Linked DNA regions of Homo sapiens. The protein of the gene in region 1 purifies or fractionates together with the protein of each later gene. This does not show direct contact. Each region holds a gene or a part of one and is shown on either strand. Other genes may lie near its edges.

What was found. Proteins that work in one complex are often made in the same cells at the same time.
Region 2: the proteins of TMED5 (region 1) and ILDR2 purify together in Homo sapiens (co-immunoprecipitation; one large-scale study listed by IntAct). This does not show direct contact.
Region 3: the proteins of TMED5 (region 1) and WDR73 purify together in Homo sapiens (co-immunoprecipitation; one large-scale study listed by IntAct). This does not show direct contact.
Region 4: the proteins of TMED5 (region 1) and THAP12 purify together in Homo sapiens (affinity purification with mass spectrometry; one large-scale study listed by BioGRID and IntAct). This does not show direct contact.

The regions. Positions count from the first base shown.
Region 1 is NC_000001.11:93,172,804-93,178,389, reverse strand, and holds part of TMED5 (transmembrane emp24 domain-containing protein 5 isoform 1 precursor), read left to right. Parts: intron 1-5,586. UniProt on the Homo sapiens protein: Potential role in vesicular protein trafficking, mainly in the early secretory pathway. Required for the maintenance of the Golgi apparatus; involved in protein exchange between Golgi stacks during assembly.
Region 2 is NC_000001.11:166,969,041-166,972,616, reverse strand, and holds part of ILDR2 (immunoglobulin-like domain-containing receptor 2 isoform 1 precursor), read left to right. Parts: exon of another isoform or gene 1-346; intron 347-1,753; exon of another isoform or gene 1,754-1,832; intron 1,833-3,576. UniProt on the Homo sapiens protein: May be involved in ER stress pathways with effects on lipid homeostasis and insulin secretion. With ILDR1 and LSR, involved in the maintain of the epithelial barrier function through the recruitment of MARVELD2/tricellulin to tricellular tight junctions.
Region 3 is NC_000015.10:84,641,535-84,644,359, forward strand, and holds part of WDR73 (integrator complex assembly factor WDR73), read right to left. Parts: intron 2,190-2,825; coding exon 1,936-2,189; 3' UTR 1-1,935. UniProt on the Homo sapiens protein: Component of a multiprotein complex required for the assembly of the RNA endonuclease module of the integrator complex. Associates with INTS9 and INTS11 in the cytoplasm, stabilizing the INTS9-INTS11 heterodimer and blocking the active site of INTS11.
Region 4 is NC_000011.10:76,360,633-76,364,208, reverse strand, and holds part of THAP12 (52 kDa repressor of the inhibitor of the protein kinase), read left to right. Parts: intron 1-3,145; coding exon 3,146-3,253; intron 3,254-3,576. UniProt on the Homo sapiens protein: Upstream regulator of interferon-induced serine/threonine protein kinase R (PKR). May block the PKR-inhibitory function of DNAJC3, resulting in restoration of kinase activity and suppression of cell growth.

The DNA.
Region 1 (5,586 bases):
ATTGAGACGAAAATGCCAGGAACAAGGGGCATTTCAGAAAAGCGAACAAAAAGATCCATAGTTCTTAAAATACATAGTGTAAGTGGGGATGGTTAGTGTGTAGTGGACACTACAAGTACTGAGTTTGTATTAGACTTTAAGACATATAAAGTCTAGGGTGGGAGTAGCAGAAAAGGACATCGGAGAGGCCAGAAGGCTGGGGTCATTAAGCATGAATCATAGCCTTGTTTGCCGTGCTGAGTAGGTTTTCCTTAATTTTGTACAAGTCCATTTAAGATTTAAGCAGATCACTGGATGCAGTGTGGAAAATGGATTTAAGGAGAGCAAAATTAGAGTCAAGGAAACTAACTAGAGGGCTAGTGAAATAGTCTAGATAAGAAAACAATTTGTATTAATAAAAAAATCTTCAGTATTTACACACATATTAGGGAAGATATCTATTTTAACTACTGTCCTCTTATAGTTAAGAGCACCAGCTCTTAACCTTAGCCTGGGTTCAAATCTTGACTCTGCCTACTTAAAACTTATGTGATCTTCTCACTTGTAAAATAGAGATAATAATTGTAACTACATCATAGAGTTGATTTGAAAAAGCATGAGTTAATAAATGCTCATATTCAGTGTAAAGTAGTCTATTAAAAAATGCTCATAGATCATCCCTGACACATAGTAAATAATCAATGAATGTTAATTTTACATTTATACCTCTATAGTTATGTAGCTGGCTTGGTTTAGCTTTATTCTTTACATCTTTAGTCACTCTTAAAGGGACTGTTCCTTTTTTTTTTTTTTTTTTTTTTTTTTTGAGACAGAGTCTCCCTCTGTCACTCTGTTACCCAGGCTGGAGTGCAGTGGCGCGACCTTGGCCCACAGCAACCTTCATCTCCCGAGTTCAAGTGATTCTCCCGCCTCAGCTTCCCGAGTAGCTGGATTACAGGCATGTGCCACCACACCCAGCTAATTTTTGTATTTTTAGTAGAGACGGGGTTTCACTATGTTGGCCAGACTGGTCCCAAACTCCTGATCTCAAGTGATCTGCCAGCCTCAGCCTCCAAAGTGCTGGGATTATAGGTGTGAGCCACCGCGCCCGGCTGGGACTATTCCTTTAAAACATTCTCCCTAAACAATTTGTTTTGATTAAGGAAAGAGGTAAAATCATTTGTCTGTAATCCTAGACAGTGTTGGTGAGATGTGTAGGGTAACTATCATCTTCCACCCTGTTTGTATTTCCCAACTTGTTTAATTTCCCAGTAACTACATCCTACTAATTTTTGTCTTAAAGTTAGTTTTTAAAATTTTATAGAACAATCTAGTTTTGTCCTTGGTTACTTATTGAAAATTTTACTAATTTCTTACTTTTTAGGTTTTAGGAGAATACTTTTTGGATAATTGACTAGCCTCACATTATATTGATAGAGGTTCTTGAAAACTTTAATGCCAATTCATGTATCTTATGACTAAAATAGATAATCCATTTAGAAATTTAAGTCATTCTTGCGTGCTTGATATGTGTCAGCACTATCCAAGTTGCTAGGGATACAATGGTGAGTGAAAATATCAGCTAGGTGCAGTGGCTCACACCTGTAATCCCAACAGTTTGGGAGGCCAAGGTGGGAGGATCACTCAAGCACAGGCGTTTCACACCAGCCTGGACAACATAGCAAGACCCCATCTCTACCAAAAATAAAGTTAGCCAGGCATGGTAGCACACACTTGTGGTTCCAGCTACTTGGGAGGCTGAGGTGGGAGGATCACTTGAGCCCAGGAGGTTGAGGCTATGGTGAGCTGTGATCACACCACTGTACTCCAGCCTCGGTGACAAGAGCGAGACCCTGCCTCAAAAAAATATATATATATATGTTTGTGTGTGTGTGTGTGTGTATAGTCTGTGCCCTCATACAATCAAGTATTAATTAATCAAATTATTACACAAATACATGTCAAAATATTTACTAGGGGTAATGAAGGTAAGTTCATAAGACTATGAGTGGGCTCAGTAGGAGGACTTCATTTTATCTGGAAATTGAAAGACATCCAGAAGTAGAGTTAAGATCTACAGAATTATCAGACTTTCACTAGGCATAATGGAATGAGTGGTACGAGACAATGGGTAAAAAAGAACAACAACGTGCCAAGATACTAAGGAAGAAGAGAGAAAGATACCTTTGAGGTCCTGAAAGATAGGATACAGAGAGAGAAAAGTGGTACAAGTCTACTTTAGAGAAGTCAGTAGCAACAGCAACCAAATCATTGTGGGCTTTTAGGTCCTTGTTAAGGATATGGGTCTTTTGCAGAGACCAGTAATACGCCACTGAATAGTTATAAGCAGGTTAACTCGATCTGTGTTTTTTAAAAGATCGTTTTGGCCACAAGGTATTGAGCCTCTCTGTACCAGTTTCTATACTTTAACAGTAATCACCTGCTCCCCACTATATATTATTGTGAAGAATAAATATGCTAATACATGTAAAAGGAATGGTATCTAGCACCAAATAAGCACTCAAAAAATGTTAGCTAGAAAATAAACCCTGAGCCTAGAACAACAATACTTTTTTAAGGGCATAATAGGCACTAAAAAGTATCTATTGAATGAGTGAACCAGACGTTTACCAAACATGTAAAACTATCTGGGTGAGTTTTTGGGAGAATATAGCTATATCAATTTTTAAAAATTTTTATTAGTCTTTCATTTTTGTATAGAGCCAAATTTCAATATTTTCTGGTAAACTGGCCATTTCATCTAATTTTTAAAATTTACTTGTATAATATACCTGATGCCATTTGGAATATCTCCTATTTCCATTTTATCTACAGGTATACATGCCTAATATTACATGTATAAAGTAGATAGGACTACTTTATTGATCTTTGGGAAAAAATGTCTTTTGAGTATTTATTATTTTTTGTTTTATATACATACACACACATATCTATTATATATACACACATTTTATACATATACAAAATATATAATATATTCATATACATATAAATGTATATGTATATATAAATATGTATATAAAAAAACAAAAACTCAAAAGCCATATATGTGTGTGTGTGTGTGTGTGTGTGTATATATATATATATATAGGCATAAGGGAGTAAGTGGAACAAGACAATGGATTAGAAGGCACAACATGTGCCAAGATACTAAGGAAGAAGAGTGAAAGATACCTTTGAGGTCCATTTATATATATATATATATATATATATAAATGGCTTTTAAGTATTATATAAATATATATATATAAATGGCTGGGTTTTGGGGAGAATAATATATTTAATAATTTAATATATATATTTGGGTTTTATGTGAGTCTGTGTGTGTGTATATATACTTTTTTTTTTTTTTTAAGAGATAGGGTCTCCAGCAATCCCATTACTGGGTACACACCCAGAGGAATATAAATCATTCTACCATAAAGACACATGCATGCGAATGTTCAGTGCAACACTATTCACAATAGCAAAGACATGGAATCAACTAAATGCCCAGCAATGACAGTTTGGATAAAGAAAATGTGGTACATATACACCATGAAATACTATGCAGCCATAAAAAAGAATGAGATCATGTCTTTTGTGGGAATATGGGTTGAGCTGGAGGCTATTATCCTTAGCAAACTAACACAGAAACAGAAAACTAAATACCACGTGTTCTCACTTAGAAGTGAGAGCTAAATGGTAAGAACTTATGAACACAAAGACGGAAACAACAGACACTGGGATTTACTTGAGGAGGGAGGGTGGAAGGACAGAGAGGCACAGAAAAGTTAACTATTGGGTACTGGGCTTTATATCTGGGTGATGAAATACTAAGTTGGTGCAAAAATAATTGTGGTTTTTAACACGTTTACCTATGTAACCTTCACATGTATCCCCAAGCCTAAAATAAAAGTTAAAAAAAAGAGAGATATGGGGTCTCACTATGTTGCCTAGGCTGAATTTGAATTTGGGCACAAGTGATACTCCCACTTCAACCAGCCTCCTGGGTAGCTGGGACTACAGGCACATGCCACCACACCTGTCTCCTTTATGAATTTTTTTACTTCCAATTATAAAAGTAATATACAACCTCCTTAGAGTAAGTCAAACAATACAAAGATGTAAAAGCAAAAAAAGCTGGGTGCGGTGGCTCACACCTGTAATCCCAGCATTTTGGGAGGCCAAAGTGGGTGGATCACGAGGTCAGGAGTTGGAGACCAGCCTGACCAACATGGTGAAACACCATCTCTTAAAAAAAAAGAAAAAACAAAAAACAAAAATTAGCTGGGCGCAGTGGTGCGCGCCTGTAGTCCCAGCTACTCGGGAGGCTGAGGCAGGAGAATCACTTGAACCCGGAAAGCAGAGATTGCAGTGAGCCGAGATCGTGCTGCTGCACTCCAGCCTGGGTGACAGAGTGAGACTCCATCTCAAAAAAAAAACAAAAAAAAACCTCTTTGTAACTCTATTGAATGCCTGTTGTCATTCTCCTAGATGTGAACTCTTCCACACCTTTTCCCATACTCATAAAAACATATAGGGTTTGATGGGGTGAAACACATATGATTATTTAATTAAAATGTCATGGTCTTTAAGTCCTTACAAAGTTTTTACCAATAGGTAAACAAACCAAATCAGTTTTTAATAAGGAAGTCTATTGGTTCATATAACTGGAAGTCTGAATAGGACTGATTTCAGGCTTAATTTGTTTTCCTCTGGTTCTTACGGCTCTGCTCTCTTGACTTTTCTTAAAGAATTGAATTACTTAAAGAATTCTTCACTGACAGATATTTTTCCTAAATGCATCAAAACTAGTATTTTATTGTCTTCTGACTTCGATTATAGCTGTTGAAGCTTCCTGTCAGTTTGTTATATATTTGTAGTTCATCTCTATTTTCTCTTGTAGCTTTTTAAATTTTCTGCTTCTGCATTTTCACTGCAGTTTAAGTGGATCATCCAAGCTTCTTAATCTCTCATAATTTCTCTCTTTGTCTCACTCTCCTATTTTATGGATAATTTCTTCAGCTCTATCTTCTACATCATTAGCTTTAAAAATTTATTATCAGTATTATTTTTGATTGGCAAATTATAATTGTATACATTTATGCGGTATAGCGTGATGTTTTGATACATATATACAACATGTAATGATTAAATCAGGCTAATTAACATTGCCTTGCCTATAATTTTTTATGATGAGCTATTTGAAATTCAGTCTCAGTTATTTTGAAATATACATTATTATTGACCATAGTCACCTTCCTGTGCAATAGATCTCAAAACCTATTCCTTCTGTCTATCAGAAACTTTGTACTCTGTGATCAACAGCTCCCTATTCCCTCTCTCCCCAAGTCCCCCACCCCCAGCTTCTGGTAACCATCGTTCTACTCTCCACTTTTAGGAATGGAACTGTATGGAATTCTAGGAATTCCACATATGAGATAATGCAGTATTTGTCTTTCTGTCCCTGGCTTATTTCACTTAGTGTAATGTCCTCCAGTATTCCATTGTGTATCTATACCACATTTTCTTTATTCATTCATTAATGGACACTTAGGTTGTTTCTATGTCTTGACTATTGTGAATAATGCTTCAATGAATATG
Region 2 (3,576 bases), about 74 Mb from region 1:
TTTCATTACTAAAATTCTGTATGTCTTCCTGTTATATATTTAGCCTTGTGATTCCTTATTGCCATTGTGATGTTGCTTCCTGTAATATATTGGTTTTGTTATTGTTGCTGTTGTTGTTGTTATTTTGAACAAAACAAAATGCTTACCAGCTGCTATTTTAGCAACAGGTGCCATCTAGCAATAAGACTTGAAGGAGGGTTCACTCTGTCTTTGTTCCTGAATATGGGTGGTGTTTTATCCTTTCCTGGCAGCAGAGGCTGTGAGAAACGCTGGAGCTGTGTCGACACTCTGGGAACACACTCCTGGAGCAAGCGATGTGTTTTCCTGGAGGCTTCTTTGGGTATCTCTATGACAAAGATTGCTTGATGAATTAGCATTTCTTTTTCTTTTCTTTTTTTTTTTTGAGAGACAGAGTCTCACTCTGTCACCCAGGCCAGAGTGCATTGGCACCATCTCGGCTCACTGCAACCTCTGCCTCCTGGGTTCAAGCAATTCTTGTGCCTCAGCCTCCCAAGTAGCTGGGATTATAGGCACGCGCCACCACACCTGGCTAATTTTTGTATTTTTAGTAGAGTTGGGGTTTCACCATGTTGGCTACGTGGGTCTCAAACTCCCAACCCCAGGTGATATGCCCTCCTTGGCCTTCCAAAGTGCTGGGATTACAGATGTGAGCCACCATGCCCGGCCCTTTATTAGCATTTCTTTTGATTTCACTTGTTTGTCTATTCTACAAGCACATATTAAATTCCTGTGATTTCTAAGTATTATACTAAGTGCTGAGAATGAGGCACTAAAAGACATAGTCCTTGCCCTCAAAGCGTTGTCAGTCTAGTCAGTGATTCAAATAAGTTTTCAGCTATGCACAGTTGTTCATGCCTGTAATCCCAGCACTTTGGGAAGCTGAGGCAGGTGGATCTCTTTGAGCCCAGGAGTTTGAGACCAACCTGGACAACACAGTGAAACCTCATCTCTACAAAAAATACAAAAAAATTAGCCGGGCACGATGGCTTGCACCTGTAGTCCCAGCTACCCAAGGGCCTGAGTGGGAGGATTGCTTGAGTCAGGGAAGTAGAGGCTGCAGTGAGCTGAGATTGTGCCACTGTACTCCAGCCTGGGTGACAGAGTGAGACCTTGTCTCAAAACAAAAACCAAAAACCAAGTTTTCCAGTCACTTTGTCATGGTAGTTAAAGGTCCTTTGATGAGAGCCACACCCCTGCTGTGAGAGCATAGAGGAAGCACACTCAACCCAAACCAGGACTGGTGCAGCAGCTCTGAAACAAATTCCCAGAAAACGTGATAGCTGAGTTAAGATATTTGTTCATGAATAGTCAGTGAGTGACTTACTCCTATGTCCCAGAAGTTATGCTGGGGTTGAAAAGATGAATAAGTCATAGTCCTTGCTTTTAAGGTACTCAGTCTGGTGGTGGAGACACCAGTTATGGAGTAGCATTGTGCAAAAGCAGTGATAAAGATCTGTACTCTGGAGTGCCTTGAAGGGGCCCCCAACCCAGCCTGCAGTGGGAAGGGAGGTATAGGGAATGATCATTAGTTGGTCTGGTTTCATGTTCAGGTAGACACCTGGTGACTGAAGGATAGGCTTGGGTGTAAAGAGTTAAAATGTTATTAGCCCTGGAGAAAGAAGAATCGCTTTTAGAGACTGCTGACACCTCAACTTCCGTTATCTCTTTTCCTGTCCTGTATATCTTCCAATTTCTCTTCCTCCTCTGTTCTACTTTTCTCTGTGGAACGTACCTCGTCCATCTTCTTTCGTCACTTTAGCACAGCTCTCCCAGCTCGGCATTGTCCCCCAGCCTGGATGCTTCTCTCTGGACTAGGAGAGGGAAGTTATTTGAATATCCTCATCACTGTTTACACTTTAGACATAGGAGTATTCTGGGTGGCTAGTTTATATAGAATTGAGTATCAGTATGAGTAGTCTTGCACTACTCGCACTACGGTGCAAGTACCTAGTGCTTAGTTCAGTGTTAGTATTAGTACCAGGACACCGTAAGTAGAAAGAGCCCTGACCTGGGAGCTGAGGATTAGGTTCTAGTCCCACCTCCTCCATAAATCACTGTATAACCATGGGTTTGGATCTTGGTCTTAAATATTGAGCAAGGTGATTTTTAAAGTTAACTTCAGCTCTAAGATTCTAGGGTTCTGAAATTTTCCCCATTAAAATTTGATGAGTTGTAAATGAAAGCTAAAGAGTGACAGGTACATGATTCCTTTTATGATTTACCCAGGAAGAGCCATCAAGGGAGACCCAGTTATTTATTTTTTTTCAGACTTTCTCAAACCATTAATGATTGGAATGAAAAACAGGTAGAAAGGAAGAGCTCTTCCTCAAATTTTCAGAAGAACAAATGGAGCTGTTGCTGGACAGGACAGGTTCTACTCTGAACAATTAAATGTGGTCATATTGGGAACTGGTAAAGTGAGGCAAGTACTTTGGACGAGATGGGATGAATCTTACTCCAGCCAATCTGGTCCTAGAATGTCCCTTCTAGTCCCAAATTTTTGTTCTGGGACTTACCTGTTCACCCCTTCCAACTATTTTTACTCTTATGCCTTCTTTCTCCCGATGTTTTTCTCACTTATTTACATGCTATGATGCTTTTCTATGTGTTAAATGGCTTTCATAGACATTATCCCATTTGATCTTGCCAAGTAAGTAAGGCTGGTATTGCCTACCTACACTTAAGAAGACCAAGGCTCAGAGGAAATAAATGACTTGTCCAAGCCCATGATATCTTACTGGTTAAAAGAATAAGAAATAATGTCACTGCCTTAATATGACTTGGTTATTTGAAGTGCCTGAATTCAGGGAAACATTCTTTTCTGGTTAAGGTAGATCAAACTGTAACTCCTGATTTAGGTGAACATACATGGTGTCTATTATGGGGCATTGGATATTGAGGCACAGAGTTCATAGAACTCAGGGAAATAGTGCAAGAAAAGTGAGAAAGAATGGCAGTTAGTTTTTCGTAATGAAATCCTAAGATCTAGTGGGAAAGGAGCGAATGAAGAGGACTCCAGCAAAGCACGTGAGAACAGAGGATGTGCCCCAGTGACAGAGCAGAAACTGATGGCACATCAGAGCCCATCTGGGACTAGGGGCTGCTGCTGTGCTCTCAGGAGCCACACAGGATGTAGCTACAGCATATGCATGCTTAAAGTCTCAGTCTTCAAGATAGTTTTTGGCTTTCTGAAAATGAAAGAAAGTGTTTTGGATGACTAGAGTTCTTTACAGGCCAAGGAACAAGGAAGAACTCAGAAGAACATGCCGCTTCCTCTATTCTCCTTCAGCATGTGGAACCCTACAGAAAGTGGTGCTGAATAAGGAGTAGGGCCCTTGCATTCAGCTGAGACCCTGTATCATCACTCCTTCCATGCCCTTGCCTCACCAGGAGGCAGCGTGTAGGGGGGATGGTGAGGCTCAAACTGACCTGGATTTGATGCCAGCTTAGGATTTTGTCTTTTTTTGTTGTTGTTGTTGCTTTAATAATGGAAAGCTAACCTACCTTATAGGGTTGTTGTGATAATTAAAATTAAATTATATAAAACTTCTAGCA
Region 3 (2,825 bases), on another chromosome or scaffold:
ATGGAGTCTCACCCTGTCACCCAGGCTGGAATGCAGTGGCACAATCTCGGTTCACTGCAGCCTCTACCTCTCAGGTTCAAGCAATTCTCCTGCCTCACCCTCCTGAGTAGTGGGGATTACAGGTGTGCCACCACCATGCCCGTCTCTAATTTTTATATTTTTAGTAGAGACGGGGTTTCACCATGTTGGCCAGGCTGGTCTTGAACTCCTGACCTCAAGTGATCCACCCACCTTGGCCCCCCACAAAGTGCTGGGATTACAGGCGTGAGCCACTGTGCCTGGTCTATCTTTAAATTCCTATCTGAATTTGTTTAGGTTTTTTAAATAAAAATCTTTCTTTTTTTTTAGAGACAGGGGTTCACCATGGTGCCCAGGCTGATCTCGAACTCCTCCTGGACTCAAGCTATCCTCCCACCTCAGCCTCCCAAAGTACTGGGATTACAGACATGAGCCACATGCTTGACCTGAATTTTAACTGCAGTTAATTATCACTTAACCAGCGAATTCACACAGGAGAAATCCCCTGGCCGGGCGCGGTGGCTCACACCTGTAATCCCAGCTCTTCGGGAGGCCGAGGTGGGTAGATCACAAGGTCAAGAGATCAAGACCATTCTGGCCAACATGGTGAAACTCCGTCTGTACCAAAAATACAAAAATTACCTGGGCATGGTGGTACGTGCCTGTAATCCCAGCTACTTGGCAGGCTGAGGCAGGAGCATTGCTTGAACCCATGAGGTGGAGGTTGCAGTGAGCCGAGATCACGCCACTGCACTCAAGCCTGGGTGACAGAGCAAGACTCCATCTCTACTACAAAAAAAAAAAAAAAAAAAATTCAACCACCTTAGGAAGCCTCTCATTTATGTATTTCTAGCATGTAATTAGTGTTGCACATGGGAAGGGCTAATAGATGCTGACAGAGTGAACAACTTATCTATTTTGTGTGTGTGTGTGTAACAGGGTCTCATTCTGTTGCCCAGGCTGGAATACAGTGGCATGATCACAGCTCACTGCAAACTTCAACTGCCAGGCTCAGGCAACCCTCCCACCTCAGCCTCTTGAATAGCTGGGACTGCAGGCTCATACCACCACAACCAGCTAACTTGTATTTTTAGTAGAGACAAGGTTTCGCCATGTTGCTCAGGCTAGTCTCGAACTCCTGGACTCAAGTGATCCACCTGTCTTGGCTGCCTACATTGCTGGGATTACAGGCATGAGCCACCATGCCCAGCCAAATTTTTTTTTTTTTTTAAGGGAAGGGATCTTGCTATGTTGCCCAGGCTGGTCTCAAACTCCTCAGCTCAAGCAATCTGCCCACCTCAGCCTCTGAAAGTGCTGGGATTACAGGCATGAGCCACCATGTCCAGCACACTTTAATATTCACTATGGGCCCTCAAAAGGAAATGTTTGTGGGGCCACCAAAAGCAAATGTCTCTTGAACCTAGTCACCTGGGGGGACAAGTGTGGGAAAGTGCACCTGTGTTCCCATGAGACCCACTCAAGAGGAGCAGAAATCCTGTTTTGCTATTTCCTTAATTGCTACTAGGGCTGGGATTTTTTCATGTTTATTGGCCCCTCTACATTTTTTTCTTTAAAAAAATTCACAAAGCATGTTTATATTTGTTAGCTCTTTTGATTCTCCCTATGATAGTGTGAAGACAGGGACAAAACGCTACCATTTCACACTCCCAGATCTAACAATAGCTACCAAGTAATTATGCCATGCGTTTCTTCTAACCTTCGCAATATCACTACGAGGTAGTTCTTACTATCCTCATTTTACAGATAAGGAAACTGAGGCTAAGTGACGCTGGCAGACTTGCCCAAGGCCACACAGCTGGTAACAGGGACTGGTAGTCACTTGAGTCCTACATGAGCACCCTTGCTACTACAGCAGCTCCTCCCCTTTCTAGAGGCCTAGATGGAAAGATGCTGGTGTCAGCGGGGGGCACAAAGGTCCACCCAGTCCCACACATGCAGAGAGGCATCATTTGTTGCTGATAACAAAGTCCTTGGTCTGCAGGGATGCCAGGTGTGGGTGGTGACCAAAGGAGCAGGGTCCATCCCATTTCCATCTAGGAAGATGTGACCTCTGTGAGTGAAGAGAGGTTCTACTTGGCTCCGTGTTCCATCTTGGCTCCGTGTTCCATCCCAAGATGTGGCATCATAGACCTGGACTGTACCATCAAAACCTGAGAATACAGAAAAGAGAGGCTTGACAATGAGTCCCTAATTTTATTTTAAAATAATTTTCTTTCTATTTTTAATAGAGATGGGGTTTCACCATGTTGACCAGGATGGTCTTGAACTCCTAGCCTCAAGCGATCCTCCCATCTCAGCCTCCCAAAATGCTGGGATTACAGGCACCCAGCCCCTAAAATACTTTTTATAATTTGTTCTATGGTACCAAAACAGGCTATTGGATGAGGAATCAAGGCACTTAAAAGGCTAACCACGGGCAAGTAGCATCTGCCCTCAGTGTTGGCAGCTGATGACTCCGTGGGGCATGTAACCATGAGCATCCGTTGTGCACCTGTTATGCGTGAGGCTCGAAGGCTAATTCTGGACAAGTATTAGCTCTTTTAATCCTCAGAACTGTATGACACAGATACTGTTATTTTACCCAGGAAACTGAGGCTTAAGAGACTTCTTCAAACCTTTTCAAGTTGCCCCAGAGTCCAGTCCCCTACCTCTGGGTCCCTTTCAGCAGATGGCCTTGTCTCCTACTCGATGGGGGAAACAGAAGCCTTTGGAGAGAAATACCTTCACGTCCCTGCACGATCTAGCTGCACACACACTCATTCCATCCTGCCATCTTCCTGGTACTG
Region 4 (3,576 bases), on another chromosome or scaffold:
ATGTTCTTGACATGAAGTAAAAATATCCCAAATTATTTTAAATACATTTGCCATATGCATTTTTGCATTTTTATTTTAGTAATAAATATGGTCTCTTAATTAGATAATTCTAACCAGATTGTGAGAAATTTAAAGGATAGTTCATTCTTACATTCTTTAGTTAGAGAATAGAACAGAAAGATGAGCCAGGTTTGCTTTTTTAATTTCTAAATGATTCTTCAATCTTGAATAAATGAACGCAAATGTGAGAAAATGTTCTTTCTATACGTCTAGGAGATGTTGTTATTAAAAACTGGATTTCTGGGCTGGATATGGTAGCTCACACCTGTAATCCCAGCACTTTGGGAGGCTGAGGCGGGCAGATCATTTGCGGTCAGGAGTTTGAGACCAGCCTGGCCAACGGGGAAACCCCTTCTCTACTAAAAATACCAAACAAAACAAAACAAAAAAAATTTTGCTGGGCATGGCGGTGCACACGTGTAATCCCAGCTGCTCAGGAGGCTGAAACAGGAGAATCGCTTGAACCAAGGAGGCCGAGGTTGCAGTGAGCCAAGATTGTGCCACTGCACTTCAGCCTTGGTGACAGAGTGAGACTGTGTCTCAAAAACAAACAAACAAAAACCCCTGGATTTTCTGATATCTGTATCTAAATGTTTAAGAGTTTTGGCTTTATTAGTTTGGCATTGAAGATCTCATCAGTAGCAAGGCACAGTGGCACGTGTCTGTAGTCCCAGCTACTCAGGAGTCCAAGGCTGAAGGATTGCTTGAGCCTAGGAATTCAGAGCCAGCCTGGGCAACATGGTGGTGAGACCCTGTCTTTAAACAGACAAAAAAAAAAAGATTTCATCAGTAAACATTCATGACTACTGAATTTGGCCGGAGCCAAATATTTTATTATTTTGATGCTAGAGTAAGATTATTCTTTTATGCTCAAACCTTAATTCAGCAGTTAAAGATTAAATCTTGATACTGAGATACTTGGTATCATACGTAGTATTTGAATATTGTCTTTTTTGGCATGTGTCCTTATAGATATTTATATTTTTTATTATTATTATTTTTTTTTGAAATAGGGTCTCACTCTGTTGCCTAAGCTGGGGTGCAGTGGCGCAGCCATGGCTCACTGCAGCCCCGACCTCCCAGGCTCAAGCAATCCTCCCCGCTGAGCCTCCCAAGTAGCTGGAACTACAGGCACATGCCACCATACCTCGCTAATTTTTGTATTTTTTGTAGAGATGGAGTTTTGCCGTGTTACCTAAGCTGGTCTTGAACTCCTGGGGTCAAGCCGTCTACCCGGCCAAGGCCTCCCAAAGTGTTGGAATTACAGGTGTGAGCCAACATTCCTGGCCAAAATAAATATTTGTAAAATGTCATTTTTTTCATTCATACATTCTGTTTTCTGATCTATAATATCTTTGCTTTATTTGCAAATAGAAAATCAATTTGATTTGACTTTTAAAAATTTGTTAAAATGTTTTATTCCTCCCCTCCTTATTTAATAATTAGTAAGATATCAAGAATTGACTGTGTATGTGTTTTTGCTTATTTTGGGGACATTTGCTCGGTGTGAAAGATGGGGGAGCTTTGAATATAATAACTTGTACTCCCTTCAGTGATTGTGTCCCTAACCAATTCCTCATTCAGCCTCCCTAGTAGACTCAGGATCACGAGCCCAGCACTAGAAGTTGAGTGTTACTAGGAAGTCAGAGAATCATCTTTGTGTTTTCTATTATGGCATGGAATTGAACTAGAAAATATTGACTCTGAATAGAAATTCATCCCAAATGTGTTTAACAACTCTTTGGGTACAACCCAAGATAGTGTGTTCCATTTAGATACATGTTTTCCCTTCATGTCTTCCCAACCTCCCTTCCTTGGGTGAACAAATTTAGAAGTTGTTATTTTTGTTTGGCATGTTCTTTGAGCATGCTTAGATATTTTGAAATAATCACTGCTTCAAAGAAAGCTTATTTAAATGAAGTATGTCTTATCTTTATCATTCCAAATTCAGGAAGAAATTAAAGGCACTATTCTTTGGACTGTCTGAGGGGAGTGTAATAGCAGTTATTTATTACTGTCCCTCTTAATAAGCTTCTTGTCTTTTACTCAGCCTCCTCAGGGCTGGCAGTAGGACCGTTACCATCTAAGTATGCATCCAGCTTCTAGCCAAGTTGGATGAAATTAACAGGAAGTAGGGTAGAGTATGATCATTCTTTCATAAGATGATTAGGACTTGAAAGAGATACAGAAATACCTAGATTAGCATTTGCAAAAATGTGATTATGTATATCAGTATCACTTGTGGCGTGAGAGTTGGTTTCATGTGGCAGATGAATCAATTTTTATTTTAGAAGTTTTGTAGTATGTGTTAAAAACATGTTTAAAAACTTTTTTAAAAACATAAGATAACATCAGATCATTCTTCCTACAGTTTTATTACTTAAGACAGTGTTAACTAAAAAATGAGTAGATTGTGTAAAAATACAGATGGTAATATAACTGAAATGGCAAGCATTGTGATCATTAGTATGTGAATAATTTCATTTTAGGAAATGTTGATCTAGTTCAATACCAGAATTTTATTCAGAAAAAGAAACTGGGGCCCAAAAAGGGAAAGTAATTTAGCCAGGGTGTCTTAGTGAGTCACTCACTGGTAGAGTTTGGACTAGTTCCTAGGTCTCCTGGGTCCCAGTCCAATATTTTCACTGTGCCTTGATGCTTCTCAGTAATATTAGCAAAAGTGGAACATTAGGTAAAATAGGGATGCATTATTATGGAACATACAAGAGTGCAGATTATTTTGGGAGACTTGTACCTCCTGTAGATTTGGTGGGCTCATGGAAGGACAGTACAGATAAAGTAGCTGGGATGCTGAATTAGAAACAGATATGCAAAATGCAAGTACATTTTATATTTTATGCCTACCTTCAATTCAGTTTCTTAATTTATAATAGATTGCCAGAAGGGCAAATGCAGGCACAGTTGGAAATAGTAGACTGACCTGAACTGACATCAAATTCTGTAAGTCTCTATACTTTAGAGCTGGAGTTGAAGGAATATTGTGGAGGTCATTAACATAGAATTTTATTGATGTGTAATATATTTATAAGGACCATCTCTGAATTAACACAATTTTCTTTTTCAGAGTCCTTATAGGACAGTTCTTCGAGATAATGCAATACCAACAATATTTGATCTTACCAGTCATTTGAACAACCCACATAGTAGACACAGAAAACGAATAAAAGAACTGGTATGTCTATGTACTTTCAGCTTTCCCACCTTCCCCCATAATACTATGAAATCAAATACAGATGCATTTATGTTAAAATTAATCCAAATTACTCTCTATTTCAGAGGTAATGTAACGGGAAATAAATGTTATGGTTGTTAAATAGCCTAGATGTGAGATGATGAGTTTTAGTATTTAAATTGGAAAATCTCCCTCAGAGTTAGCCAGTTGATACTTGTTGACTTGGTCCAGAGTGTGCTGTTAATTACAGGCCACTAGCTCATTCCCTTCTGGAGAAGAAGGAAAAAGCTACCTTTTCTTTCATAGTAAGGAAAATAGAGCTG